Homo sapiens: one gene and its partners. The protein of the gene in region 4 purifies or fractionates together with the protein of the main gene of each other region. This does not show direct contact. Each region holds a gene or a part of one and is shown on either strand. Other genes may lie near its edges.

Region 1 (7,265 bases), on a different chromosome or scaffold from region 4:
CTCCCAAAGTGCTGGGATTACAGGCATGAGCCACCACTCCCAGTCATGAATTTTTAACATCACTCTTTGAGTTATGTATATTAGAGAATAAAAAGAAGCATATGAGTAAAGCACCAAAAGGGGCCCACAAGAAGTCTTTCTTGACTCTTGAGGCTAGATTAGATGCCCAACCAGTATATATACACACACACATATAATATATATATATACACATATATACATGTATATATTATACGTATATACATATATATGTCTATATATACATATATGTATATATAATACATTTGTGTGTGTGTACACACATACTATTGCAACACTCATGACATGGTGGTGTTTTCATAATTAGCGTGTAGATAGTCAATATATGTGGGCAGAAACCCATGTCTGTCTTATTTACCGTTAGTATTTGCATTAGCACAGCACGTGTCTACATAGTATGTGCTTTACCGATACAAGTGAAGAATGATAATCAACAAAGCAAACAATCTTTGATAGTGAGATGAGAAGCTATAATAAAGCTTATCTGTCTGTTGCTCCTGATTGCCTTTTCTCTGTTCATCTAGAGTAAGAGTAAATAGAAGAGGCTTATTCAACAATATTCTGTATTTATAGAAAGACATTTTAGTAATACTCTTTCCTCTTTTAAAAATTACAATAACTATTGTTAATGACTAATCTTAATTTATATATACAACTTTTAAACAGGTCAAAGAAAGTATCTGTTCCATCAACTGTGATATCCAGAGTGATTGGAAGAGGAGGCTGTAATATCAATGCTATTCGGGAGTTTACTGGTGCACACATAGATATTGATAAACAGAAAGACAAGACTGGAGACCGGATAATCACTATAAGGCAAAACTTTGTCTCTTACATTTTCTTCCTTTATTTTATTGCACTATAGCTTAATGAAATACAGCCATATGAGTTTTCAGTGGAACTTTGTGTTACATAGTATACTTTTTAAAATGGGAATTTTATTAGTGTTTGAGAAGATAAATTTTATAGTTTTCTTTTTTCCTAGGTAATACACTTTTGTGAAGTGTTTCAGAGACTTTTATAGGAATTTGTATGCATGTGTAGCAAAGGTTTAAATAAATAATTTCTGTACATAAACTGTTTATATGACATTCTTAAAAATTTGTTCTGAGACTTTTAGGGAGCGCATTTCTAACATTTTAAGCAGTGGGTTTTTGTCTTTCTCAAATAACCTTTGAGATTTGTTATTCTGAGATTGTGTCTTTAGAATTTGAGTTCTTGGGCTGGGCACGGTGGCTCACGCCTGTAATCCCAGCACTTTGGGAGGCTGAGGCGGGCGGATCACCTGAGGTCAGGAGTTCGAGACCAGCCTCAACATGGGGAAACCCCGTCTCTACTAAAAATACAAAATTAGCCGGGCATAGTGGTGCATGCTTGTAATCTCAGCTACTCGGGAGGCTGAGGCAGGAGAATTGCTTGAACCTGGGAGGCAGAGGTTGCGGTGAGCCGAGATCGAGCCATTGGACTCCAGCCTGGGCAACAAGAGTGAAACTCCCTCAAAAAAAAAAAAAAAAAAAAGAATTTGAGTTCAGATTTGAATCTGAAGTGAAGATATAACTTATCTTGAATAACTCGTCGAATATGTCTATGCCTGAATATTCTTAAAATAAAAGTGATGTTCTAAGAAATCATAAGAATGTAGGAAGCTATATTTAATTACTTTAAAGTAAATTCATGTTCCTTTGAAAAAGAGTTTTATATTTTTTACATGGCAGATATAAGTTTGTATGAGGCAGATGCCCCTTTGCATTATATAGGAGAGCTAATAGTTACATCATACCTCAAAAATAAGAAAGCAAGTAGCCATCTCTATTTTATTCATCGTCCTCTCCTTCTGACTGGTTTTCCCCTGGGTATTTGGGTAGTCACAGCCTATCTTATCTAGAAAAGAGGGAACCAGATACCCTTTATTGGTAATTGCTCCCTTGAGTTTCCATAAATATCAAATATTTTCCTGAAGATCCAGCACTAAGGTTTTATATGGCTATTTTTGGCACTATCAGGATTCCTGCATCATTTTAAGACATCTTCCCAGAGGAGTTACAATAATTATCCTATTAATAGACAAACTACTAATGAATTTTTAGTAGACGGAGTCATCCCAGATACCAAGATTTAAAATAAAATACTGTTTTCTTACTCAGTTGTATTATTTTCCTTGTTTACTTCTATTATTTTTAGTGTTGATTAACTGTTTCAATATTTTTAGGATTAAATGTTTCAATAACATTGTGGATTACATAGGCTTTTATGTGCAGTGGTTTTTCTAACTGTAGTGTATTTTACAGTAGGAAAATGGTTTCTTAGTCTAAGGAAACAATAGTGAAATGTATTTTTGAAAAATAAGTCATTTACTATTCTTCTGAAAAATAAAAGTAGTAATTCAGGACAGTTTATTGCTTTGTTTGTAGAATACCTCAGGAATGGTAAGAAAATTGCTGCCCAGCTTTTGTTATCTGTCCTTTGTTTGTATGTGTGTATGTATATACACACAAAACTGTGTGTGTGTTTGTGTACATAAATACATATTAAAAACACTTTACATACTCAAAAGTAGGGAAAATTCTACCTAATTTTTTTTTCTCAATTTATAGGGGTGGCACTGAATCAACAAGACAAGCAACTCAATTGATTAATGCTTTGATCAAGGATCCAGACAAAGAAATTGATGAACTTATTCCAAAGAATCGTTTGAAAAGCTCCTCAGCAAATTCCAAAATAGGGTCATCAGCACCTACCACCACTGCTGCTAACACTTCCTTAATGGGAATTAAAATGACAACTGTAGCTCTGTCATCAACATCTCAAACTGCCACAGCACTCACTGTGCCTGCAATTTCTTCTGCATCCACTCACAAAACCATTAAGAACCCAGTGAATAATGTGAGGCCTGGTTTTCCAGTTTCTCTTCCATTAGCATATCCTCCTCCACAGTTTGCACATGCTTTGCTTGCTGCTCAGACTTTCCAGCAGATCCGTCCACCAAGGTTGCCCATGACCCACTTTGGAGGTACTTTTCCACCAGCTCAATCCACTTGGGGTCCGTTTCCTGTCAGGCCTTTGAGCCCTGCCAGAGCTACTAACTCGCCTAAGCCTCACATGGTGCCTCGCCATAGCAATCAGAATAGCAGTGGTTCTCAGGTGAATTCAGCAGGTTCTTTAACTTCAAGCCCAACAACTACAACCAGTTCATCAGCTTCAACGGTGCCTGGTACATCTACAAATGGCAGTCCAAGTTCACCTTCTGTCCGAAGGCAGCTTTTTGTCACAGTTGTGAAGACATCCAATGCCACCACAACAACAGTCACAACCACGGCAAGCAACAACAACACTGCACCCACAAATGCCACATATCCTATGCCTACTGCCAAAGAACACTATCCAGTATCATCCCCATCTTCCCCATCACCACCAGCCCAGCCAGGAGGGGTTTCTAGAAACAGCCCTTTGGATTGTGGATCAGCATCTCCAAATAAAGTGGCATCTTCCTCCGAACAGGAAGCAGGTAGTCCACCAGTAGTAGAAACAACAAACACTAGACCTCCAAACAGCAGCAGTTCTTCTGGGAGTTCATCAGCTCATTCTAATCAGCAACAACCTCCGGGATCTGTTTCTCAGGAACCAAGACCACCTCTTCAGCAGTCTCAGGTTCCTCCCCCGGAAGTTAGAATGACTGTTCCTCCTTTAGCAACAAGTTCTGCTCCAGTGGCGGTGCCTTCTACTGCCCCAGTGACTTACCCTATGCCTCAGACACCAATGGGATGCCCCCAGCCTACTCCTAAAATGGAAACCCCTGCTATTAGACCACCCCCTCATGGCACAACTGCCCCTCACAAGAATTCAGCTTCAGTGCAAAATTCATCTGTTGCAGTCCTCAGTGTCAATCACATTAAAAGACCTCACAGTGTTCCCTCTTCTGTCCAGCTACCTTCGACCTTAAGTACACAAAGTGCTTGTCAGAATTCAGTACATCCAGCAAATAAGCCTATTGCTCCCAATTTCAGTGCCCCCTTACCATTTGGGCCCTTTAGCACATTGTTTGAAAACAGCCCTACTTCTGCTCATGCCTTCTGGGGAGGATCTGTTGTTTCATCTCAGTCAACACCAGAATCTATGCTATCAGGAAAATCCTCATATTTGCCAAATTCAGATCCTTTACATCAGTCTGATACTTCCAAAGCTCCAGGTTTTAGACCACCATTACAGAGACCTGCTCCAAGTCCCTCAGGTGAGTTTATATTTTCTGAGATTCTGCAGCTGTTCATTTGCACAAGTGATGTGAAAATTCTTGGTCATTTTCTAATATTTTTATTCTCTGGACGATATAGACAAAGATTGTTGGATTTAGTTAACTCAGATGCTGTTGTTTGTGTTTAGTATGGTGTTATTTTTAAAAATCTTTTTAAAAGCTACCATAGATTTTTATTTAATTTTCCATAAATAAGTCTTCTGATCAGGCGGGGTTTTTTTGTTTGTTTGCTTTTTGAGACAGAGTCTCGCTCTGTCACCCAGGCTGGAGTGCAGTGGCATGATCTCAGCTCACCGCAACCTCTGCCTCCCAGATTCAAGTGATTCTCCTGCCTCAGCCTCCCGAGTAGCTGGGATTACAGACGTGCACCACCATGCCTGGCTGATTTTTGTATTTTTAGTAGAGATGGGGTTTCACCATGTTGACCAAGCTGGTCTCGAACTCTCAACCTCAGGTGATTCACCCACCTTGGCCTCCCAAAGTGCTAGGATTACAGGCGTGAGCCACAGTTCCTGGCCTAGGCGTGTTTTTCTCTCTCAGAAGTCTTTCATGTTTTAATTTAATAAGGTACTGTCACCAAAAGTTTACATTTATTACAAATACAAAATAACAGATTTAAAAAATTGGGTTTCATTTCGCATTATCTTTTTTATTTCTAAAATAATTTTAAAAATAGAGCTACACAGTCTGATATGGTAGCCAATAACCATGTGTACTTTTTAAATTTAAATTAATGAAAATTTTAAAAATAAAAAAATTAGCTTCTTAGGCTACCCATATTTAAGTGCTTAAAAAACACTTGTGGCTGGTAGCTACCATATTGGACAGCAAAGATCTAGAACATTTCTATTATCCAAAATTCTACTGGGCAACACTGATATATGTAGAAGATACAAAGATCTCCTGATTGTAAGCTATTGCTTTTTTAAAAAAAACTTTTTACTTTAAAATATTTTTAGATTTATAGAAGAATTCTATAATTCCTCAGCTTCCCTTCATGTGACCATCTTACATAACCATGATACATTTCGAAACTAAAAAAATTAATATTGGTGTAGTACTACTAACTAGACTACAGATTTTAGGCAGATTTCACAAGTTTTTCAAGTAATATCCTTTTTCTATTGTAGGATCTAATCCAGGATGCCAGTTTCCATTTAAAGCTGTTGGGTTTTAATATAAGCATTTCAAGTAATTAAAGATAGTCCACGTAAGAGATGGACACACTATGGTCTATGGGCCAAATTTGGCCTGCTGCCTGTTTTTACATTTCTTAAATGTTTAAAAAAAAATTTTTTTTTTTAAGAATAGGCTTGGCACGGTGGCTTGTGCCCGTAATCCCAGCACTTTGGGAGGCTGAGGTGGGTCGATTGCTTAAGCCCAGGAGTTCCAGACCAGCCTGGGCTTAAGGGGAGACCCCATCTCTACAAAAATATAAAAATTAGCTGGGCATGGTGGTGCATACCTGTAGTCCCAGCTACTTGGGGGGCTGAGGTGGAAGGATGACTTGAGCCCTAGAGGCAGATGTTACAGTGAGCTGAGATCACACCTCTGCATTCCAGCCTGGGTGGAGACCCTGTCTCAAAAAAAAAAAAAAAAATTTAAAAAGAATAAACATGCAACACAAAATATGAAATTTTAATTTCAGTGTTTGTAGAGAAAGCTTTACTGAAACACAGCAATGCCCATTCATTTGCATATTGTATAAGGCTACTTTTATGCTACAATGACAGAATTGAGTAGCTGGGACAGAGACCATGTGACCTGCAAAGCCTAAAATATTTGGTATTTGGCTCTTGGTTGCCAACTCGTTATCTGTGTTATTGGAAATATGACATTCCGGGACAAAAATTTCCAAGTTTAATGGGAACTCAATGTTATTTTTACCTATTTCTGTAACATGTAAATAAAATTTAATGAAGGTGGTCAGTAAATATTCTTTGCTAAAAGTCAACTGAAATATTTATGTGTACTATGAAAAATAATTTATTTTATATTAAAACAATAGAATCAATATAATTAGATTTTAGATCATTATGTGCCAGTGCGTAGGAAATGCTTTAAGTTTGATTTTTATAGTAGTTGGAATTTAATACTTTACCTTTCCAAAAATGTGATAATCTAGGTGTGGGATTCAGAAAGGCTAAAATTAAGCTTTAGAGAACAAAAAAATAAATTCCTATTTTTTGAAAAGGTATAGAAGAAAGACCTCTGTAAGAAAGGTGAGGTTTTTAGGGAGTGTATAGTTGATGAGAGCCAAAATTAGCATTGAAGTTTAACTTACAAGTCAATTACCTAATTCAGGTCATTTTGAGTTAAAGATACTCCTTTTATTACATAGGAAGTATGTCCTTTTATTTTCTCCTAAACCTCTCTCAGATCCTAATTTTCACTTCTCTCTACTTCTTCCTAATTCATTTTGTGTTCCATATTTTTCTTCCTTTGTTTAACTTTTCTTATGTAAATAATTTGATTATTTGTATTTTAGACTCAGATCTGTTTTTATAGTTTGTATTTTGAAAAGTTATTTAAGTCACATAAAGATCTAAGGACAGAATAAGCAGCATAGTAAATACTTGGTATTTCCACATTTATTAATATATTCTCTGCTTGTTAACATCTTTTCAAACTCTCTCCCTCACTCCCCTCCCTTCCTCTCTCCCCTTTTCCTTCTTCCCTCCTTTTTTTTCCTCTCTTTTGCTGCTTCCTTTTCTTCCCCCTCTCTTGTCTTGTCTTACCTGTCTCTCCCCTTCTTCATCCTTCTTTCCTCCTTTTCCCCCTTTCTATCCTATCTCTATTTTCTTTTCTTCCCCATCTTTTGTCAAATCATGAGAAGATAACTTTCAAACATGATACTTTACCCCTAAATACTTTGATATGGATCTTCACAATGTTTGCCTTCACAGCTATGCCACTATTACTGCACCCAATAAAATGAGGATGAATTTGATAATAACACCCAACATAAAATGCCATT
Region 2 (7,292 bases), on a different chromosome or scaffold from region 4:
GCCTGTGGACAGAGTGTAGCTGGTTCCAGTTTCTGGTGTGCAAGAAACAGAACTTGAATTTTCTTTAACTCACTTGAATTCCTGTATTTTGCCCTACTCAGCCAGAGTGGCAGAAAGTTAATTGCGGTCAATTCACAGTTCCCCCATTTTCCTTGGCATTCTGTTGGAATTCTAGGGCTCTTCCTTTCAAGGTGCCAAAGCATGGGAAGCATAGTCTGATTTGGTCATCCAGTCACACTAGCATCCACTGAGATGTTCTCATCTGGTTGTGACCTTTTGTCATCAGCCCATGAAGGTTGCTGCTGAGTTGCTCCCCATCCCCCCACCAAAAGACCCCTCCAAGTGTAACCCATACCCCTCTCAGGTGTGCAGAGTTTTGTTTTGTTTTGTTTTGTTTTTCTGCTTTCCCCAGGCCATGTTAGGCCTAGGAAATTCTTGAGTCTTAGGTGAGTTAGGCCCTGTTTGTCCAAAATGCAGCATGCAGCCATTTCTCCAGAGGGTTTTGTGACTTCCCTGGTGCCCCACCCAGGAAAAGGAGCACAGCTCCTCTCTGCTTCTCAATCCCTTGGACCCAGATGATATTCCCAGTTACAAGACTGAGGAGAAGCTTCTCTCTTCTCAGGGACCCCCCTCCTCAATCTCAGACTCCCAGATCCCCGTTATAGTTTTCTAAATGTGTGTCTGCACAGAAATTCTGTCCATTCCTCCCTGAAAGCTAAGCTTTTGGAATTCAGAAGCTAAAAATAGGCCCTGCATTCTGTTGTATCATTTGTTTCCCGAAGTAATGAATACAGAGTAACTTATCTGTGTAAGAGAAGGAGGGAGAACACCAAGGAAAAGATGAAAAACAATGCAAAGTGTTACTGTCCCACCAGATTCTGGATAGTGTGGAGGCAGAGGGAAAAAGACTAAAAAAGGCTTTGAAGGTGGGAAAGTTGGGAACTGCTGCTACTGACCCAGTCCAACTCTGTCATTTTACAGCTGAGGAAACTGAGGCTCAGAGAGGGAAAGGGGCTCTCCCCAGGTCCCATGGCTAAGTTAGAGGCAGAGTGCCAAGATGGGCACCATAATGGTCATGAAAAATAGCTACTGGCCAGGTGCAGTGGTTCACACCTATAATCCCAGCACTTTGGGAGGCTGAGGTGGGAGGATCACTTGAGCCCAGGAGTTCAAGACCAGCCCTGGCAACACAGTGAGACCCTGTCTCTATAAAAATTTTTTTAAAAATTAGCAGGATATGGTGGGACACACCTGTAAGTCCCAGCTACTCAGGAGGCTGAGGTGGGAGGATCTCTTGAGCCTGGGAGTTTGAGGGTGCAGTGAGCTGTGATTGTGCCACTGCACTCCAGCCTAGGCAACAGCAAGACCCCGTCTCTAAAATAAAATAAATGAAAAATAGCTACTCTTTGTTGAATTTTACTACTTGCCCTGTGCTGGGTGCTCTGATGCTCCACAAGGGCAGAGCTGTTGTCTGGTTATGCCGAATCTCCAGCATCTAGCTCAGTGCTCTGCACATAGTGGGCACTCCATCAATCTTGTGGAATGAAAATAATCCTTTTTTTTTTTTTTTTGACATGGGGTTTCACTCTTGTTGCCTGAGCTGGAGTGCAATGGTGCGATCTTGGCTCACTGCGACCTCTGCCTCCCAGGTTCAAGTGATTCCCCCTGCTCAGCCTCTCAAGTAGCTGGGATTACAGGCACCAGCCACCACGTCCAGCTAATTTTTGTATTTTCAGTAGAGACGGGGTTTTGCCATGTTAGCCAGGCTGGTCTCGAACTCCTGACCTCAGACAATCCACCCACCTCGGCCTCCCAAAGTGCTGGGATTACAGGAGTGAGCCACTGCGCCCAGCCCTGAAAGTAATCTTATTATATCATTATAAAAACCCCATATATTAATAGCACCATTTTACATTTGAGCAAACCGGCTCAAGGAAGTTATGTGGCCTGCTCAAGGTGAACAACAGAATGGGGATTTGAACTCAGGTCTGTGTGACTCCAACTCAATGATCTTAACTGCTGTGCTATTCTGTTTCCCAGCACTCTTGGCATCATACTGATGACAGAGTATAAGAGGTGCCTTTGTTCACCACAGTGGTGGTACCTAGCCACAGGGTGTAGGTCTGACACTCAAAATTTGCCAGATTTAGGCCTTGCGATTTGGTGACAAAGAGAAGCCAGAGCCAACCAGTAATGGAGACGAGGGTTCAGAAGCCTGAGGAAGCCCCTGGGGGTTGAAGGTCTCTTTCCCTCCTTCTGTGATAGGCAGATCTGCCTATACCTTGTCAAGCCACCATCTCATGCTGTTGTGACAGGCGTCACTTTGTTATGGCAGCACCGTCTGCCGTAAGCCTAGAGTTGGAGAGCCAGCAAGAGTATGTCAGCGTGAGTGTGAGTGTGTGTGTGTGTGTGTGTGTGTGTCCCAGCGTTCTCCTCATGGTAGTGTCCTGATGACAGTTTCTCATTTCCTCTGGCTGGCACCTTTGGTTTCTATTCATTACTTCTTCTCCTCCTAGCTTTCTGTTCCTCCTCCTCTCCTTTGTTAAAATCCTGGATTTTCAATCAGCTGAGAGTCTCCTGGGGGTAGGAATGGTGGTGTCAGCGCAGAGTGATTCATCTAGCTGATAATTAGAGCTCTGGAAAACCCAGAACTCATTTTTGTCAGAGTCAGGGCTTCCGGAATCCCTAGGCTTTTTGTTTTGTCAGAGAGTGGAGCTTGCTGGGCTGGGGCCTTCTTTATGCCTGTCTTTTGGTCACCCACCTCATTGAAGCCCTTCAACTGAGATGAGTATGAGTGCTCGCTGGGTCTTGCAAAAAGCTGTTTCTATAACTCCGAGTCCTCACAGTGATCCCCCAAGCGTTATCCCTGTTTGGACAGAAGGGGAAGATTGGGCAATTTGCACATAGTCACCCAGCTTGTAAGTGATGCAGCAGGGATTCAAAGCCAAGTTTTTTGGAATCCATCAGACTTGATTTGAATCCTAGCCCTGCCATTATTAGCTGTGTGTGTTTGGGCACATTAATTTCCTTCTCTGAGCACTGGCTTCCTCAGCTGTAAACAGCCTCCTACCTAATACTGTCTCAAGTGCTCCATGCAGAGTGTGGCACAACGGTGGGAGCTGTCCTGATTACTCTTGTTAGTCAGCCCTATCAGCAGCTCAGTGGGCACCAGGCATTCAGAGACAAAGGACACAGGTAGAGGCAGCCAGACTTCACTCATATCAGCTCTTGTGTCCTGGCACTGCCTATGTGGAGATGACAAATGCACATACACACAAGTGGCCACACACCCTAGGAAAACCCAGCAGTGCACACAAGCTTAGACACGTGTGCCCACACATGGATATAGAGTGACCCAGGGGACAGCTGGAAAGACAGCCAAGAGTTAGACATCATAAGCAGCAAACACCCTGACTCACACCTCTGGGACAAGGGAGTGGGGCTACGGCCGCTGGTGCTGCTGCCACTGAGCCCTTCTAGCTGCTTCTGCATGCCAAGGGAGGGAAGCCAGGCTCTTAGAGGGCCCCAGTGAGTCACTTGCCTGATGCAATCCCTTTAAAGGGCTCATCTGCTGGTGCAAGAAGCTGATTCATGGAGGGCGTGGTTGCTGGAGGAGGAGGAGAAAGGGACCGAAACTGCAGCAGGAGGAACTGAGGTTAGATAGCTGTAGTCGCTAATAGGAACGCTTCACTGTAAACCTCCCTGGTCAAGGCTTCAGGGATCTCCAGGTTGAAGGTTGCCATCCTCGGGGTTTCTACAAAGGCGACAGACCTAGAGGGAAATGAATTATGAGCGCTGCGACAGGAATTTCTGTCTTTTATTGAGCCTAACTGCAGGGCTTTCCTCACAGAGTTCCACAAACCGGGAAATGAGGATCAAGGATGAGTCACTTTTCTGATAAATACACTACAATTGGCCGATCTTCCAACCGCTGGGGACTTCAACCTCGGCAGGGGGAGTGTAGGGCCCGCGAGGTTCTGTGGGGTCGGGCGGGGCGGTGCCTCCGTCCCAGCCTCGCCGCAGATATAGATCAGCAGTAAGTACCGCCCCATTAGAGCCTCGGCCTCCAATCGTGTAACAGGTTTCGCCCAGACCCCACCCTGAACCAATCCTCAATCGGACTCTGGCCTCTTGCCTGAAGTCTTCCGCCCATCGTCAAGATGGCGCCCCAATCCGAAAGCCGTGGGGCTGGAGACGCAGGCGGAGGGCGGGGCCCGGGGGGGCGGGGCCGCGGCTAAGGCTGGGGAGGAGGGGGGCGGTGCGTCACTTCCGTTGTCAGGTGGCGGCGCCGCAGCCATGGAGGGAGGCGGCGGCGGCGGCGGCGGCGGCTCGGGTGGCTGCGCTGGGAGGCGGCGGTGAGAGGCTCGCACGCCTCCAGCCCGGCCCCGGCCCCCCGGGAGGGAGAGCCGAGCAGCCCCGGCTCTGGGCTACGGACTATGGGCGAATAGCTCTGACCACCCGGCGAAGGTGAGGGCAGGGGTCCAGGAGCGGGGAGCCGGGTGGGGGTTGCGGGTAGGCGGGGCGGGCCCCGGCGGCCGCGGCGGTGGAATCGGAGTGACAGCCTGAAGCCATCTGAGTGCAGCAGAAATGGCCCCGGCGAATGCCCCCTCCTCCGCTGGGGCTCTGCCCTTCCCCGGCGGCAGGGGCGAGGGCTGCCTCGCGCCGGGTACCGGGAGGCCGCGGGAGCTTCAGTCCCCGCCGCAGCTCTGGGAAGTGGGCACTGCCAGCTTTGCCTAGAGTCACCCAGCCAGTGAGTGAAGCAACCGGCGTGTGAATCCAGCCAGATCTTTCCAAAAAGACACCTTCTGCCTCTCCGTGTTTCCCTCCTAATCCCGAGGGTGACTTGATAGTTAGAACGAGTCCCCAGGGAGGGCCAGCCAGGGCTTCCTCCAAGAGCCCTCACTCTGGCACGGGCGCTACCGCTGCTGGGGAATTTTCATATCCCGGGCGGCGTTCAGGTACGAGTCACAGCTACCTGCTTGCCAAGGCCACGTTTGGCCGGCCTTTTCCAAGGAGAGCTTGCTGTGGTCAGTGTTTCACCTGCCGAGCCGGTCAGGCCCGCCCATTCCCACGCCACTTGGCCCCGCCTTCCAGCCAGTTAGGTAGGGACATTCGGATTCCTGATGCCGAGTTTTCTGCCCACCCCAATCCCCAGGTTTGAAGCCCTTTTGTTAGCGGAAGGAAGAGATGACAGCCGCCCTCTGTGTGGCAGGATAGACTTTGCTCTGTTTTAAGTCACTGGAGGAAACCGGTTGGCTTTGCTTTGGTTTTGAGAACCAGTGGGGAAGAGGGTAGGCATACTGGGCTGGGCGCCTTTCCCTCTTTGAGTAGTTTTGCGTGAGATAAGGAAGAGCAGAATGTGTAATTGTAGGGCCAAAATAATCTTGTTTGTAAACAGTGCCTGTGAGCTCCTTTAGTGCTTCCTAATGGCCGTGCTGTGCAAGTTGTTGGTTGGGTTAATCTAGACAGTCCTCATTCATTCATTCATTCATTTCTCACATGACCACAACAAGAGTCCTTGCCTAGAGGCAAGTGCTAGACAGCATAGTGGTTAAGAGTAGGCTTTGGAGCCAGACTTCCTGAGTTCAAATTCTGGCTCAGCAACTTTCCAGCTGTGTGTACCTGGGCACATTGCTTAGTCTCCCTGTGCCTCAGTGTCTTCGTCTATAAAACAAGGATGATAACAGAGAGAGATATTATGAAGAGTAAAAAGTTAACATGTAAAACATACAACCATGTTTGCCACGTAATAAGAATTCAATAAATGTTATCTATTTTTATTTCAAGGAGCATACAGTCTAATTAAGGGAAATTGACCTGTAAACAAATGGTTGAAATGTGGTCTAAAGAAGCTAGTAGTGGCTGGGCGCCGTGGCTCATGCCTGTAATCCCAACACTTTGGGAAGCCGAGGCGGGCGGATCACCTGAGGTCAGGAGTTCGAGACCAGCCTGGCTAACATGGTGAAACCCCATCTCTACTGAAAATAGAAAAATTAGCTGGGCATGGTGGCACAGGCCTGTAATCCCAGCTACTCGGGAGGCTGAGGCAGGAGAATTGCTTGAACCTATGAGGCAGAGGTTGCAGTGAGCCGAGATCAAGCCAGTGCACTCCAGCCTGAGTAACAGAGTGAGACTCTGTCTCAAAAAAAAAAAAAAAAGAAGAAGAAGAAGCTAATAGCAGCAGCAAGAGAGTACTGTGGGAGCCCAGTGGAGAAAGGGAGAAAGCTGTGAGCTCAGCCTTGGGGGTGGGGTGGGGACGGGAGTGTGCCATGAAAAGGCTTGGCAGAAGTGATGCTGGAGCTGAGTCTAAAAGGAGAGGAGGGGAGGCTTAGCCAGGTGAGAATGAATACTTTGAGAGCGAGATAGACAAATAAACTCATAGTTTATTCCAGAAATCTCAGATTGTTCAATCTAGTGGTATGGAAGTTGATATGGTGCAAGTGAAGCAGTATAGGTTCATGAAAGAATGCCATATTAGCAATTTGAGATATCATGCCCAGGGCAGCCGGGAGCAAGTGAAAAGGTCTGAAGCAGAGGAATGACATGATTGGTTACATATTTTAGAAAGATTTCACTGGAGTCCCAGTAGAGGAGGGAAGGAGGAGGACAGGAGCGACTGAAGGGCTGGAGAACTCTTCGGAGACAAACCTAGGCTTCTGAGAGAGGAGAGTTGGTGCTGGGGCGATGGATCTTTGCTGAGGAAGCACCATGTGCAACCAGTGCCAGATGGCAAGCTCCTGCATTGGCCTGGGCTTCTCTGCCTGGCGCAGAAGTGCCTGGCACATGTGCCCCTCTCTTCCTGGGATTGTAGGTTGCTTGAGCAGCTGGAGAGATAAGACTGCCCTCTCAGAAGGCCAGTTGTAAAGGGTGCTGTGTTTGCTAACTTGTGCTTTTAATCTGACCTTTGGGGAAGGCAGTAGATTGTAATAGTTAAGAGGTTATTTGAGGCCGGGTATGATGGCTCACGCCTGTAATCCCAGCACTTTAGGAGGCCGAAGTGGGCAGATCACCTGAGGTCAGGAGTTCAAGACCAGTCTAACATGGAGAAACCCCTTCTCTACTAAAAATACAAAATTAGCCGGACGTGGTGGTGCATGCTTGTAATCCCAGCTACTCAGGAGGCTGAGACAGGAGAATCTCTTGAACCTGGGAGGCGGAGGTTGCGGTGAACCAAAATTGCATCATTGCACTCCAGCCTGGGCAACAAGAGCGAAACTCTGTCTCAAAAAAAAAGCTTATTTGGCTCTGCCATCAGACAGATCTGTGTTCTACTTCTATCCCTGCTGGTCACT
Region 3 (7,401 bases), on a different chromosome or scaffold from region 4:
TTCAGTCATTACAATTATGTATTCAGCCAGTACATTTATCTGGTACAAAAATGAAGCTCTATTGCATCACATACTCTCAGCTTCTTTTTGTGAATTTAGATTTTATAAAAAATACATTCCAAAGAGGTAATACTAAGAACTGATGATTTTTTTTTCTTTCCCCCTAGGAGACTTCTCAGTTGGGGTCATACTACTTTCTGTCTCAGCCCATTTTCTGCTGCTATAACAGAATACAACAGACTGGGTAATTTATAAAGAAAATAAATTTATTTCTCACAGTTGTGGAGCCTGGGAAGTCCAAGAGCACGGTGCCTGCATATGGGGAGGGTCACCTCATGGTGAAAGGCCCAAGACAGCATGAGAGACAGAGAGGCAAGATGGGAGCCAAACTTATCCAGTTATTAGGAACCCACTCCTGCAATAACTAACAGTACTCCTCATGACCTAATCATGAGACCTCTTGAAGGTCTCAACTCTCAACACTGTTACAATGGCAATTACATTTCAACCTGAGTTTTGGTGGGTACATTCAAATCACAGCAGTCCTCAGCATAAGCAACTTGGAAGGAAACTCTCACTCTGTCGCCCAGGCTGGAGTGCAATGGCACGATCTCGACTCACTGCAACCTCCACCTCCTGGGTTCAAGCCATTCTCCTGTCTCAGCCTCCCAAGTAGCTGGGATTGCAGGCATGCGCCACCATGCCTGGCTAATTTTTTACATTTTTAGTAGAGATGGGGTTTTACCATGTTGGCCAGGTTGTTCTCAAACTCCTGACCTTGAGTGATCCACCCACCTCAGCCTCCCAAAGGGCTGGGATTACAGGCGTGAGCCATTGCACCTGGCCTGGAAGGAAACTCTTTCACATTCTCTACATTATCAATCACAGGACAGTGTTGTGTTTTTTGTTTTTTTTTTTTTTTGAGACGGAGTTTCACTCTGTTGCCCAGGCTGGAGTGCAGAGGTGCGATCTCAGCTCACTGCAGCCTCTGCCTCCTGGGTTTCTTGGGTTCAAGCAATTCTCCTACCTCAGCCTTCCAAGTAGCTGGGACTACAGGAGCATGCCACCACTCCCAGCTAATTTTTGTATTTTTTTAGTAGAGTCGGGGTTTCACCATGCCAGCCAGGCTGGTCTCAAACTCCTGACCTCGAGTGACCCACCTACCTCAACCTCTCAAAGTACTGGGATTACAGGCATGAGCCACCGCACCCGGCCAATCACAGTGTTTTCAAAGTGTTAGTCACTTGCCTCAGATTCACCTGGGTGCTGGTACAAATGCATATTCATAAGGTGGAGCTCAGAAATCTGGTTTTTAACAAGCTCTCTAGGTGATTCTTCTGGGCACCGATGTTTGAGAATCATGGGGGAAGCAATATGTTTAGCAAATAATAGGTCCATAATAACTATTTGATGATGATATACTATGCCCTTAGTAACTTCCAAATGTCTCTCATGTGCTGAACTTTCTTCTGTGCCTTAACCCTGTGTTTTCGACCACTGCCTATTCTTTGAGTTTTTTTCATCCCACACTCATTCAAAACATTCAAAACTAAACCATCTACTGGACACCTCCAATCTTGTCACTACGTTATTGTTACCCAGAAGTCATGTTTGGAGTCATTTCTGTTTGTGTTTCATCATTTTTACTTAATCAACATATTGACCATTGTGTCAAGCACTGATATAGACAGTGATGAATATGACAGATATGGGTCATACTCTCAAGGATGGTAAAGACAGTTTTACAGAGAGTAATTAAACTTTATACCATCAGTTCCTTAGTGTTTTTCTCAGAATATTCCCTTTCTTTGTCACCATCCTAATCTAGAATCTTATCATTTACGCTCGAACTGCTTTAATTTTTCCTAGTCTTTGTTCCTAATTTCCCACCTCTTCTGAAAGATTAATCTCCTAAAAAATTAATCTTTAAAACATTATAAATGTTTTTACCCTACTTAATGCCTAATTTCCGTGAAAGCTGTCGTAATCAAAATGGAATTATATGGGCTCGGTGGTACACACCTACAGTTCCAGCTACTTGGGAGGCTGAGGCAGCAGGATTGCTTGAGCCCAGGAATTTGGGGGCTGTACTGTGCTATAGACTTGCCTGTGAACAGTCACTGCATCCCAGCCCCATCTCTTAAACAAAAGGGGGTGGGGGGCCCCATCTCTTAAACAAAAGGGGGTGGGGGGCCCCATCTCTTAAACAAAAGGGGGTGGGGGGGCCCCATCTCTTAAACAAAAGGGGGTGGGGGGCCCCATCTCTTAAACAAAAGGGGGTGGGGGGCCCCATCTCTTAAACAAAAGGGGGTGGGAGGTAGTCACTAATATATTTTTTAAAACACTGAAAAATAGATTCAGAGGTCATGAAGAGAAGGGGTCTCATGCTTGCACACCTGATGACAAAAACTATCACAAAAACCTGCAAAAGCCACAATCTTTTTTTTTTTTTTGAGATGGAGTCTTGCTCTGTTGCCCAGGCTGGAGCACAGTGGCACGACCTTGGCTCACTCCAACCTCCGCTTTCTGGGTTCAAGCGATTCTCCTGCCTCACACTCTCGAGTAGTTGGGATTACAGGTGCATGCCACCACACCCGGTTAATTTTTGTATTTTTAGTAGGGACAGGGTTTCGTCATGTTGGCCAGGCTGGTCTCGAACTCCTGACCTCAGGTGATCCACTCGCCTTGGCCTCCCAAAGTGTTGGAATTATGGGCCTCAGCCACCGCACCTGGCCAAAAGCCACAATCTTACACAAAAAATACTTCCGCAAAAACATCTGCCCAGCAACTTCCTGTCCAGTTTCCGACTGGTGTCACCTTGTTATTGATCTTCGTAGCCAAGGATAACGGTTTAAAAACAATTATGTAATTCTCATTTTTTTTTAAATTTTAAAAACCTTTGCCTTCCTTTACCTCCTTGAATACGCACGTAGTTTACTAAGTCATGAGTATTTTCACACTTTATTCCCAAATAAATATATAAGAATCATAGAATGATAGAATTGAAAAGGATAAAATCACACAGTTGTTTCTAACTCCCACCCCTTAGAATGCGGCAAATGAAAAAAATTTTTTTTTTTGAGACAGGGTCTCTGTCTCACAGGCTGGAGTGTAGGGATCTCCGCTCCCTACAGCCTCAACCTCCCCAGCTCAAGCAATCCTCCCATGTCAGCCTCCCGAGTAGCTGGGACTACAGGCCTGCTGCCACCATGCCCAGCTAATTTTTTGTACTTTTTGTAGAGACGGGGTTTCGCTATCTTGCCCAGGCTGGTCTCTAACCTCAGGTTCAGCCTGATCCTCACCTCCAGGCTCAGGTGATCCGACCCCCTAGGCCTCCCAAGGTGCTGCGATGACAGGCATGAGCCACCGCGCCCGCCTATAATCAATTTTCAATATTCTAAAAAAGCCTACCAGAAATTGTATATTTTCTGGTGGTATTAAATGCTAGGTTTCCTTGTTTTGTGCTAGAATTATATCAGATCCACAATAAACCTAGGTTCCGACTGAGCTGGGTCTGATTGAGCAAAATCTGTTTTCCCATTATTGTTATGTTCAATTTGGCAAACAGCTTTTCAAAATATAGGAGTGAAGTCGTGGTCGAACTAATAAAATTGGTAACACTTGCTACAATGTTTGCAATTCGCAGAAAACTTCACTGACTTCATCTTAACTTATTCCTCACAAAGCTGTGGAATCACCATCAGTAGAGCAGGAGTCGTTGGCTCAATGCAGTGCTGTCTGCAACCGCTCGGAGCTTCTAGGTTCTTTCCGTGGGTCTCCAGCTTATGAGCACCTACATTCCGCGATTCGGAAGCACCTGCCTACCCCTCAGAAGAGAGAGACAGCTCCTTCTTCCCGTTCCGGAATGTGGTGCGTTCGCACGCATGCGTGACACGGCTACTCCGCGCTTGCGCCGATATTCTCCGCTTGGGGCGGATACCCTGGGTGACCCGTGAGCGTCCGCGCCCGGCGCGCGCCTGCGCAGTCGCTTTTCGAGAGTTTCCGCCCGCTACGTTCCCGTCTTTCAAACCACCCCACCACCTATACCATTCATTCCAGTCTCCTCAATTCTTTCACTGTATTAAGACGGCCTGCCCTCTGGCACGTTTTCTGGAACGAAAGCGGCTTGGGACAGACAGACTCCCTTCGCCAGGGAGCCCCGACCCCGAGGGCGCGCCCTGAGCGTCTGAGCGCAGCCCCGCTGCGTCCCCAGTTGTATCCCCCGCCACGCCCGCCTCTTCCGCCGCTCGCGCGCGCGCGCACGGCCGGCCACGGCGCGCCGGGGTTGGCTGCTACAGGGACCGCGGTGGCGGCGGCGGCCTCGACAGCGGTAGTGCCTTCTACTCCGCTTTTTTAGTTTCCTCCGCCCCCTCCCGTGGGACGCTGTTGTGTGGCTGCCTTAAAAAAAAACGCAACTTTATTGTTCCTCAGCCCCACCTCCGGCTCGGCGGGCGTCCTCAGGATGCACTGAGGCTGAGGGGAGGGGAGGCGGCGGAGGGTCGAGGTCGCGGTCCCTCTCCTCCGAGCGCCCGGCTGGAGGGGAGGGAGTCACGATGTCTGGTAGCCGCCAGGCCGGGTCGGGCTCCGCTGGGACAAGCCCCGGGTCCTCGGCGGCCTCCTCGGTGACTTCCGCCTCCTCGTCTTTATCCTCTTCCCCGTCGCCGCCTTCCGTGGCGGTTTCGGCGGCAGCGCTGGTGTCCGGCGGGGTGGCCCAGGCCGCCGGCTCGGGCGGCCTCGGGGGCCCGGTGCGGCCTGTGTTGGTGGCGCCCGCCGTATCGGGTAGCGGCGGCGGGGCGGTGTCCACGGGCCTGTCCCGGCACAGCTGCGCGGCCAGGCCCAGCGCCGGCGTAGGAGGCAGCAGCTCCAGCCTAGGCAGCGGCAGCAGGAAGCGACCTCTCCTCGCCCCCCTCTGCAACGGGCTCATCAACTCCTACGAGGACAAAAGCAACGACTTCGTATGGTGGGTTTGAAGAGCACTCCCTCCTTGTCCCTAAATTATGAGTTTCTGCCGCTTAGGCTTGGGGGCGGGGGGTCTGGTGTGGGGGTGGCTTGTTGGAGAGCTTGGGATACTGGTGCTGTGGTGGTGTCTGCAGAGGGAATCGAGCGTTTGCAGGCATTCGAGCTCCTGGTTGGTGGGGTGAAGGAATGTTGGAGTAGCGAGGCAGGGTGGGGATAATAAAGAGGTAGGTAAGTGTTGCTGAGGAGGAAGTGAAGGGAGTTTAACGAATGACGAGGGAAGAGGTGGAAGGTCAAATAAATGGTTTTGGATAACAAAGTTGGCAGAGAGGTTGAGTCTTAAAATTTTTGCCTCTCTGATGAATTGAACACTCAGTCAATCAGGAGTCCTTGTTGAGATGAATGAAATTTGCAAATGGAGAGGACTAAGCTTCCTCGGATGCAGAGGGGTGGAGTTGGTCAAAATTTATTTGAAGTATGGTAGATGATGCTGTAAACATAAGCATGGATGTCTTATAAAGACATGCTTTTTATAATAATGTAAGTACCTATCGTATGTATGTGTAAATATCTTCTTCCATTTCAAAGGATGGGCCACTTAGGAATCGGCTGTTGAGACGACTGTAGTCAAAGTCTGTTAACAGATTTTTCACTTCTCCACCAAGTGTCTTGAAAAGAGAGAACCACGTTTGTTAAATAACATCCCTGTGTCAGATGTAACTGTACTATACTGGATAACAGAGTATACTGGAACTTCTGACTTGAGAAATGCTAGGTATAGACATTTTGTCGTCATAGTTGGCATCTTGAATGATACAGAGTAACATTTAGTCATGACATTTGGGATAGAGAGGTTAGTCATATGAAGTGAAAGGTGGTGTTGATTGTCTTGCTTGAGAGTGTTTTGGAATTTTTATTGGATTTTAGATATTGGTAGGATTATGAGAAGTAATTGCTGTTAGCTAGCTGCTTAAGAAGTGGTAGTGTTTCGTACTTTCCTTTTTGAGGAAATTGTTGATCAAATATTAGGCATGTAGGAAGTTGGCTGCTTGCACAGTCATTATGAGGGAAGTTGATTCAGATCAGGGTTGAAGATGGTCTGAGTTGGTGTTATTAAATAAGATAGAGCTAGAAGTTGGAACTGTTAGGAAAGTTATTGATTAGACTTACGGTTTCTAGTTCCTGCAGAAAAATGATGTCTTTATTCACCTTTCTGCTTTTTTGTACGTTATTCTTTATCAGAATTAATCTGTTTTTCATTGAACATTTGGGCTGTAATATGATTGTTATTTATAAATAAGCAGTTTATGGTTGGGGCTGAGAAGTGTTTGCACTTCTACACAGTCGATAGTGCGAGTAGCTAATAAGCTAATAAAACAAAGTGGGGTGTGCATAATTTAGTTGTCTTTTTAGCCACTGTTTGCATTTTAATTTTTAGTATACTTAACGAACACAAACATGTTAGCCTCCGTGTAAGTACACTAAAATAAAGTAAAAGATGTGAGGAATAAGGAATCGATCATTGTCATTCAAGAGATACTTGTATGACATTCACTGTCGGCCAGGCACCATATGAAGTTCAGTGCACTGCAGGCTATGCTATAGGGAATTGGGAACTCTTTTTTTAAAAGAGTAAAAATTTGTATTTGAGACGGAGTCTTGCTCTGTCACTCAGGCTGGAGTGCAGTGGCACCGTCTTGGCTCACTGCCACCCCCGCCTCCCGGGTTCAAGCAATTCTCCAGCCTCAGCCTCCCGAGTAGTAGCTGGGATTACAGGCACCTGCCACCACACCTGCCTAATTTTTTGTATTTTTAATGGAGACGGGGTTTCACCATGTTGGCCAGGCAGGTCTTGAACTCCTGACCTCAGGTGATCTGCTCGCCTCGGCCTCCCAAGGTGCTGGGAGGGATTACAGGTGTGAGCCACCGTGGTCCTGAGTATTTCACTTTCTAAGAATCTCATTAGTTAATTATTTCTTTTTCTGGTGAGGTTTAATATTCAGAAGAATTAATTAATGAGAATCTGATTTAAAACTCAAGCCAGGTTTGATTTTGTCCAGACTCTTGGGGTAGGATGATATGGATTAGGCAAGGCCCAAGGAATCCTTTTTTTCTTTTTTTTTCCCCCCGTTTGGCTGTGGGTCTTGTCTTGTATGCCCCAAGGTCAAACTGTGAACCAATTCAAATTATTCTATGCTTTTATATTTAAACGAAGCCCAAGTTCAAATAATGATAATTTCTTATTCATTTATGGGACATTTTAAAGATATGCTTATGCTTCACGTTTTATTTTATCCTTAGAACAATTCTGTGATGTTATATATAACTTATTTTTAATACAATACTAATTATTTTCTCATTGAGGCACAGAGAAGTAATTTTGTTTGTCGTTGGACAGGTAAGGACAAAATGAGAACTCAGATTTCCCAGTTCTCAACTTTGTGT
Region 4 (7,265 bases):
CAAAGATTTTGAGCTTGCGGTTCTGCCTGGAAGGTCTATTTAGGAGACTCTCCAATGGGACCATTTCACCATTACTTAAAAAAAAAAAAAAAAAAAAAGTGCCCAGAAAGGTAATTAAATTCCCCATAGAGCCATATGAACCATATACAACTTGTTTGCCTCCAGAGTCTTACAGCTGACTTTACTCCACGTCATTAACATATCTCAAATACAGATGCACAAAGCTTATTTTCTACTATACACCAAAATACTATATATATACACATCTCCCACGGCAGAAAAGACACCCTGATACCCTACTCTTTACACAAAGTCAAATATTTTCTTCCTCAAAATCAAGTAAACACAAACTAAAATAAATGGAATAAACTTTTAATCATACAGAGAAAATAATTTTTGAGAATCAGGACAGGATCTTCCACTGTGTTCTCTTACAATGTAGATGTCTTGGCGACCACTGTCCCCAGAGGAATGAAAATCCACCTTTAAAAACAGAACCTTTTATACAGTTTATACAGCACAAATCACAAATCACTTTAGAAACAAAAATGTGTTATCCTAAATTTAAAAAAAAAAAAAAAAAGGAAGCGAGAAGAGAGAGAGGAACGGAGTATTTTAATGCTATCAGTTTCTATTCAGGCTTGATACAACATAAAGAAGATGTAAACATTTAAAATAAATAATAAAATAAATGTCAATTTCTTCTCCCCCTCCCTTTCCCATAACCCTCTCAAAATTTGATCCAGCCCCTCCTGAACATGTCGTCAAGCATTGGATAAATTAAACCCCTTGGTTGATGTATGGCCAAAACACTAGAAGCATAAGAAGATGCCAGATTCATAGTGGGATGACTGGGTTTCCTTTTAAAAAGCTACAGGACACAGGCACGCCTGGAAATGTATACACACATGCGCACACACACAGCCCAACCTGTCAATAAATAGTGAGATGCTGGCTTTTAATATGAATGCCAAAACAACTCAACAAGCAGAAGGTAGCAAAGACTCCTTAAGTTTTTTAAAGAAAATTCACACATCACATATTCTATTGGTCCCCAAATTCTCTAAGGACTTGGGTTACCCCTCTGACCATCTGAGGAGTGCACGGGAGCACATGGTGGGGTAGAAGGAGAAGTATGGAGTGGGAGAATATTGTAGGGGATAAGTCCTTGAGAACAAACATCAGACTGAAGGCAATCTTACCTTGGATCTTGAAGACAGACCTTCTCACCTCTAAGTGTTTCTGTTTATCCATTACTTAGGGGCCTTTTATAAAGAGATGTCCTCATCCCTTAGTCTCATCCTAACGAGGATCTATATAAAAGCGCCTAACACAGTGCCTGGCACATCGTAGGTGTATTCTTTTCCTTCCTAAAGGGGGCACAAAGATGTCTGATCAGGAAAGGAAATCGACCTGAAAGTTAAATGGCGAGATTGCATTTGCACTGTTGGTCCATCAAGGAAAAGAGAAAAAAAGTCCCAGTGCTCCAGACAATTCAACCACACTTGGAATCAAGTGAGAGGAGAGGGAGATTCCTTTCCCCAGAGCCTGAGAAACAGAAGCAGCAGCCCCAGATGGCTTTTGACTTTGAGATGCTTGTGTGACACACCTGGCCCCCAACACAGGCAGAATGATGTTTGACTCTGAAAACCTCCCCAGTGAATTATCTGCTTGGAGCCGGCTCCAGCAATTTCCTAAGCCTCAGCCGGGATCGCCTCTCCTTCCTGTGCCAGCAGCTTCCCCCATTCAACTGGCCAGGGAGAGGACTATTCGCAGAAAGACTGGCCAGGAGGCCAAGAAGACGGTGTGTTTTACACGAGCTGATCAGAGCGCCCGCCCTGTGCCGTCCCAGAGCTGCCTGCAGCCCAATCGGAGTCCACACCTCCGAGCTGCCTCGCGAGTGGAGCCACAAGAAGCACAGAAGTTCCTAAGCCAAACAGAAAGGCAGCCCCAATGCAGCTGTTCCCATAGCTGGAGCCATGGAGGTGTCTGGTGATTCTGGAGCAAGGGTGTGTGTGTGTATGAGAGAGAGAACTTGGAGGGCAAGCCATAAGGAAGTAAAACTCAGGATATGCTCACGACTTAGGTGTGAATATTCAGTCTTCCCCAAATCAAATCACCTCTGACTTTGGGGAAGCTGAACGACCTCCTATGACAAAGCCTGGGGGTCTTCACAGGGCACGTAGCTCAGAGTCCTCTTACAGTCCTGTGTGTTGGCTGGACGTTTGCCTTCTGCTGGTCCCAACACCAACACAGCTTGAAATCTGAACTGAAGCCAAGTTGTGCCTCAGGAATTTGTCCAGCCTGGCCACAAATCAGGCTGTGACCTGCACGGGGATCTTTGCTGCACAAAGTGGGGTATAAGGGGGCTTTTAGAAATAAAAGACAAGAAAGCAGCTTCATTTAAGAAATATCTATATGCACAAAAAAGAAAATAGCTCCCACTTGGCTACAAATACCACTTGAGATGATTACCCCTGTGAGAGCTGAGTGCACCCCAGTTTTCTTTGCCCATCTCCTGCTACTCCTGGCTCATTCTGCTGCTTGGATTCATCTCAAGCCAGAAACCCAACTGCCCAATCTTCTTAGAAGGGTCCCTCCCAGAGCCCCTGGGAAATCGGGAGAGGGGCATCACAGCCAAGGGATGCAGGAAATAACATTTTTAAAGTATTTTAAACAAAATCCTTTTTCTTTGAAACCCTCCTTTCTGCATCACTTGTACAGGTCACTTCCAGTCCCACTGGCCCATGTACTTTAAGCATACGGCTGTTCCACTCTGTGTGTCTAGTGCACGAAAACAGGTCATGTTCATGAAATAACATGCGAGGGAACAGCTGTGTGAATGTGTCACTGCTTTCTCCACGGGGGATCTTAATTATCTTTCAAACGAGGATACTGTGACCTCTAGAGCTGAATCCCCAGCAGCAGAGTCTTTGCAGAGCACAAGCCCCGCAGAGGCTGGTTCTGGCCAGGAGCTACTCCCTGGATTCCTGTCAAGGCCCTGCTGGACAAGAAACTCAGCAGGAGCCATACCCTGGGGAGAAAAGGCTCAGAGGGGTGGGCAGCAGGGACCCTGCTGAGCTGTGCTCCTGCTGGAGGCCAGGGGGACCCTTCCCCAACCCCGTGAAAGGGGGCAGCTCTCCTGCAGTGGGAAGCAAAACATCCTATCTCCAATTCCAGCAGCCAGAAAGATTCAACAGACAACCAGGAATGGCGCATGAGCCACAAGCCACAGCGACAGCTCAGGCCAGCTGTTCACAGCTTGCTTGCTGCCTGGGCCAGAAGAGTGCACTGGGGTGGGGACAGGGGAGTGTAAAAGAGAAAGCACTTGATCCAGCAGGTGGCAGATGACCACAGAGGGCAGGAAAGGCCCGGTGCCCTGCGGGGAGGTGAGCAGCCAGGACAGGCTGAGCGGGTGCTGGGGCAGCAGCTGCTGCAGACGCCACTCCAGTGACGGCCTCCCGCCTCCCTCCCCTGCCTCTCCATCCTCAGCAAATGCTTCTTTGAGGCTTGGGGAGGGGCTGCCTGGCAGCATCTGGGGAAGGTCCAGGCCCACGCTCATTAAATCTCTGTGGGTGGCGTCACCCTGAGAGCCAGGGTGGGGGAAAGGCGGAGCCCGGCAGGGACTTGGAGTATAATGTGTGGCTCCTAGGGAGGGACGCCTCCCTGGTCCGGAGAGAAGGGTCCAGGGGCAGAATGGCAAGGCAGTAATTACAGGAGACGCCCTACTCAAGACACCAGGTGAAGGGAAGCTGGCTAGGACACCCGTGTGGCTTTGTTGGCATGCTTCCTGGCCTGGTAATTAGGCGTTTGGCAAACCCAACCTGTGCCCCACTGTCTCACTCACACCCTGTCTTCTGGCCAAGCCGTTCCTCCAGAAGCCGTCTCCGAAGGTGGGCAGGAAGGGTCCTCTGAGCCTCCCAGTGATGGCAGCATCTCCTTGAGAGCTCAGGGAGCCCCGCTGGGAGTTCTGGAGATGATGACTGGGAGGCGTCAGGGTAGGGAAGGCTCTGTATTGCACTTTGTCCCCTTCTGGACAAGTCAGCCCCAGCAGAAGAGCCACCTGCTGCCCCATCTCCAGAAATGAAGAGCTTTAATATTCAGACCACCCAGATGAAATGTCATGGCAAATTTGATAAAAACCAAGAGGGAGTGAAACTGACGCTGGGGGAGGAAAGGGTCAAGTCGAGGGAAGGTGAAACCAAAAGGCACTGAGCATGCGTGGTGGGGCAGGGAAGGACACCATCACTCCAGAGACAGTATGGTAACAAAGGGACAGGAATGGTCCAGGCCAGCTTCAGGCTCTTCAGAAGCCAGAGAGATGTCCAAGTCTACCAAACCGAGTTCTCCAAGGCTTTTCAAGAAATGGGATTTGCTTGCAAGATGAATGAGGGAGGAGGTCCCATGGCTTCTAAGAGATCAACCCAAGTCTTCCAATACTCACTGCTAAGTCCCACCTGGGTCCCCCAGAGCCAGGAAGCTCCCTGGTGGCAGGTCCCCCTCTTGCCCTCACGGCCCTGGAGCGCTTGAAGGTGCTGGTCCCTGGGAAGGAGGAGCGAGGAGGACCCCCTCCGGAGCTGGGGAGGGAGGTGCACTGGGTTACAGAGCCAGCAGAGTGGGGGAGTTCAAGGAGTCTGATGATTGGTCCCCGCTGCTACTGCTTCTGCGGTGAGCCTTGGAGCAGGATTCGGAGGGAGATGCGGGTGACTCCTGCTCCAGGACGCTAGGATAGGTGAAGACGAGGTTCGAGGTGCCCGGAGTGACAGCAGGTGTGGAGGTCACCACGATGGGGGTGTGCAGGGGCTCCTCACCGTAGAAGCCCCCAGCAATGCTGATGGGCTTGATGACAGAGCGCTGGGCCTTGTCCAGCCCCGCCGACGAGGACGAGGGGCTGTCCTCTTCCAGGGGCTCCTGTTTCACCACTACAGCGCCCACCGAGCCACCCCCACTGCGCATGGGCTGCAGCCCAGGGGCTGGGGGCGATCGGCGCTCCTCGGGGCTAATCTTGCACACTGGGCCGTGAGCCACCAACATGAACTCCAGCTTCTCCTTCTCCTTCTGCAGCTCAGCAATCTCCTTCTGCAGGCCTGACTTCTCCTCCTCCAGCTCCTCTGTCTCCTGCCACGGAAAGAGAGGGATGTGAGGGACAGCAACCTGCCAGGGACCAATCTAGGCAGGAAAGAGAAAACCAGTAATGTTCTCAGACACTGTGAGAGCAGAGGCTCACACACCTAACCACAGACCCCGCTGGTCTGAGTCTCTCAGTCACCTGGAGGCTCAAGATTCCTTTCATTTCCAAAGAAGGAAAGTCAGCTTGGAGAGGGGGTAAGACAACAACTGCAGCTGCCATAACCCAGCACCTACTTTGTGCAGGGCACAGTGTTAAGCATTTCAGAGATGATCTCATTCAATCTTCCAGGAGTTTTTTGGAAGCAGATGTTATCATCGCCCCATTTTGCAGATGAGGAAACTGAGGTTCAGAGGGGTTCTGTTAATTTTCCAAAGTCACCGAGCTAGCAGGTGGGGTAGCCCAGATTTGATTCCCAATGTATCTGACTCCAGGGTCTATGTTCTATGGCCTTGGTGCCAGGACTGCCCCCTCGGTACCCCTGAGGGGTGAGTACTGCAGAGATCTGCATGGAGAAGGGGGTACGGAACACAGCTCTACCCACCTCTCTCCTTCTCTTACTCCCCAACCCCATGCCAGCCCACCTGTGGATGGATAAACGCTAAGCCCTAGGCTGCTAGAGAGTGGAGACTTTGTCATGCACACTCCTGTATCCCTAGCACCTAGAACAGTGCCTGGCTTCTCAGAAGTGCTCAGCAAATCCCTGTGGGATTATCACAGCCTCTCCTCCTCCCTTTTTTCACTCCAATTTCTTTCTTTTTTTTTTTTTTGAGACAGAGTCTCACTCTGTCTTACCCAGGCTGGAGTGCAGTGGCATGACCTTGGCTCACTGCAGCCTCTGCCTCCCGGGTTCAAGCTATTCTCCAGTCTCAGCCTCCCGAGTAGCTGAGACTACAGGCACCTGCCACCACACCCGGCTAATTTTGTATTTTTCATAGAGATGGGGTTTCACCACATCGACCAGGCTGGTCTTGAACTTCTGACCTCAGGTGATCCACCCGCCTCAGCCTCCCAAAGTGCTGGGATTACAGGCATGAGCCACGGCGCCTGGCCTTTTGCTCCAATTTCTTAAGCACATATTTCAGGACTCCCAGAACCCTCAGAGAACATTTGGTTCAGCCACCACGCTTGACACAGAAGTAACGTGACAGCCCGAGAGGGCCTGTGAGGATGCCAGGGTCACCCCGCAAGGACCTCAGCCCCCTTCTTTCATCCCCAGCCAGAGAAGCAGAAGCGAGCAAGTGCACGTGGAGGGGCCGCTGTGGGAGGGGAAGAGGTGTGTGTCACCAGCCTCCTCCCCACGTTTTCCCTAACATGGATTCCTGTTCATCAGTGAGGACATACGGGCAAGGGCTTCGTTCAGCAGAGGACAGCATATTCCGGAGTGAAAAACAGTTTCCGTCTGTCTCAAGGGTCTGACGAACGTCATGAGCTTCTGAGAGGCTTCCTGTGGAGGATGTGGCTCAGGGGCCTGGGTGGCTGGGTCAGAGGGCGGGGGAGGTGGGGGAGGCAGGGGAGTAGGGTGTGAGGCCTCTGGGAGGAGGGAAGGAAAGTAGAGGAGCCTCAGGGGGCAGGGCTATTCCGGGGCGGGTGGTGAGGAGCGCCACATGGGGCACAGCTCCTTGAAGTGCCAATCACAGAAAGGTTAGTGGTGGGAGGGCCCGCTGAGGAAGTGGATTGTGGATCTGCCTCACCTGGGAATGAAGAATTCCCACTCATCCTCCCCGGCTCTAACACCTCCGAGGGCCATTACTACAGGCATCACAGAATTCACGCAATTCAATTCATTCAACACCCCAGAGTGAGGGCTGCAGGACAGAGAAAGACAAGCCTAAGTGGGTGGATGGTACCTGGAAACATTAACTCAAGTGAGGGGATGGGCCAGGCGTGGTGGCTCACGCCTGTAATCCCAGCACTCTGAGAGGCCAAGGCAGGCAGATCACCCGAGGTCAGGAGTTCGAGACCAGCCTAGCCAACATGGTGAAACCCTGTCTCTATTAAAAATACAAAAATTAGCCGGGCATGGTGGCAGGCACCTGTAATCCCCGCTAGTTGGGAGGCTGAGGCAGGAGAATGGCTTGAACCCAAGAGGCAGAGGTTGCAGTGAGCTGAGATCGTCCCACTGCACTCCAGCCTG

The links.
Region 1: the proteins of FOSL2 (region 4) and ANKRD17 purify together in Homo sapiens (affinity purification with mass spectrometry; 4 studies listed by BioGRID and IntAct, with this or other methods). This does not show direct contact.
Region 2: the proteins of FOSL2 (region 4) and STK40 purify together in Homo sapiens (affinity purification with mass spectrometry; 4 studies listed by BioGRID and IntAct, with this or other methods). This does not show direct contact.
Region 3: the proteins of FOSL2 (region 4) and COP1 purify together in Homo sapiens (affinity purification with mass spectrometry; 5 studies listed by BioGRID and IntAct, with this or other methods). This does not show direct contact.

Annotation. Positions count from the first base shown.
Region 1 is NC_000004.12:73,087,669-73,094,933, reverse strand, and holds part of ANKRD17 (ankyrin repeat domain-containing protein 17), read left to right. Parts: intron 1-705; coding exon 706-855; intron 856-2,633; coding exon 2,634-4,267; intron 4,268-7,265.
Region 2 is NC_000001.11:36,382,898-36,390,189, reverse strand, and holds the start of STK40 (serine/threonine-protein kinase 40), read left to right. Parts: upstream 1-4,265; 5' UTR 4,266-4,467; intron 4,468-7,292. UniProt on the Homo sapiens protein: May be a negative regulator of NF-kappa-B and p53-mediated gene transcription.
Region 3 is NC_000001.11:176,204,131-176,211,531, reverse strand, and holds the start of COP1 (E3 ubiquitin-protein ligase COP1), read left to right. Parts: upstream 1-4,245; 5' UTR 4,246-4,553; coding exon 4,554-4,960; intron 4,961-7,401. UniProt on the Homo sapiens protein: E3 ubiquitin-protein ligase that mediates ubiquitination and subsequent proteasomal degradation of target proteins.
Region 4 is NC_000002.12:28,409,783-28,417,047, reverse strand, and holds part of FOSL2 (fos-related antigen 2), read right to left. Parts: intron 6,576-7,265; coding exon of another isoform or gene 6,473-6,575; intron 5,170-6,472; coding exon of another isoform or gene 5,119-5,169; coding exon 4,600-5,118; 3' UTR 1-4,599.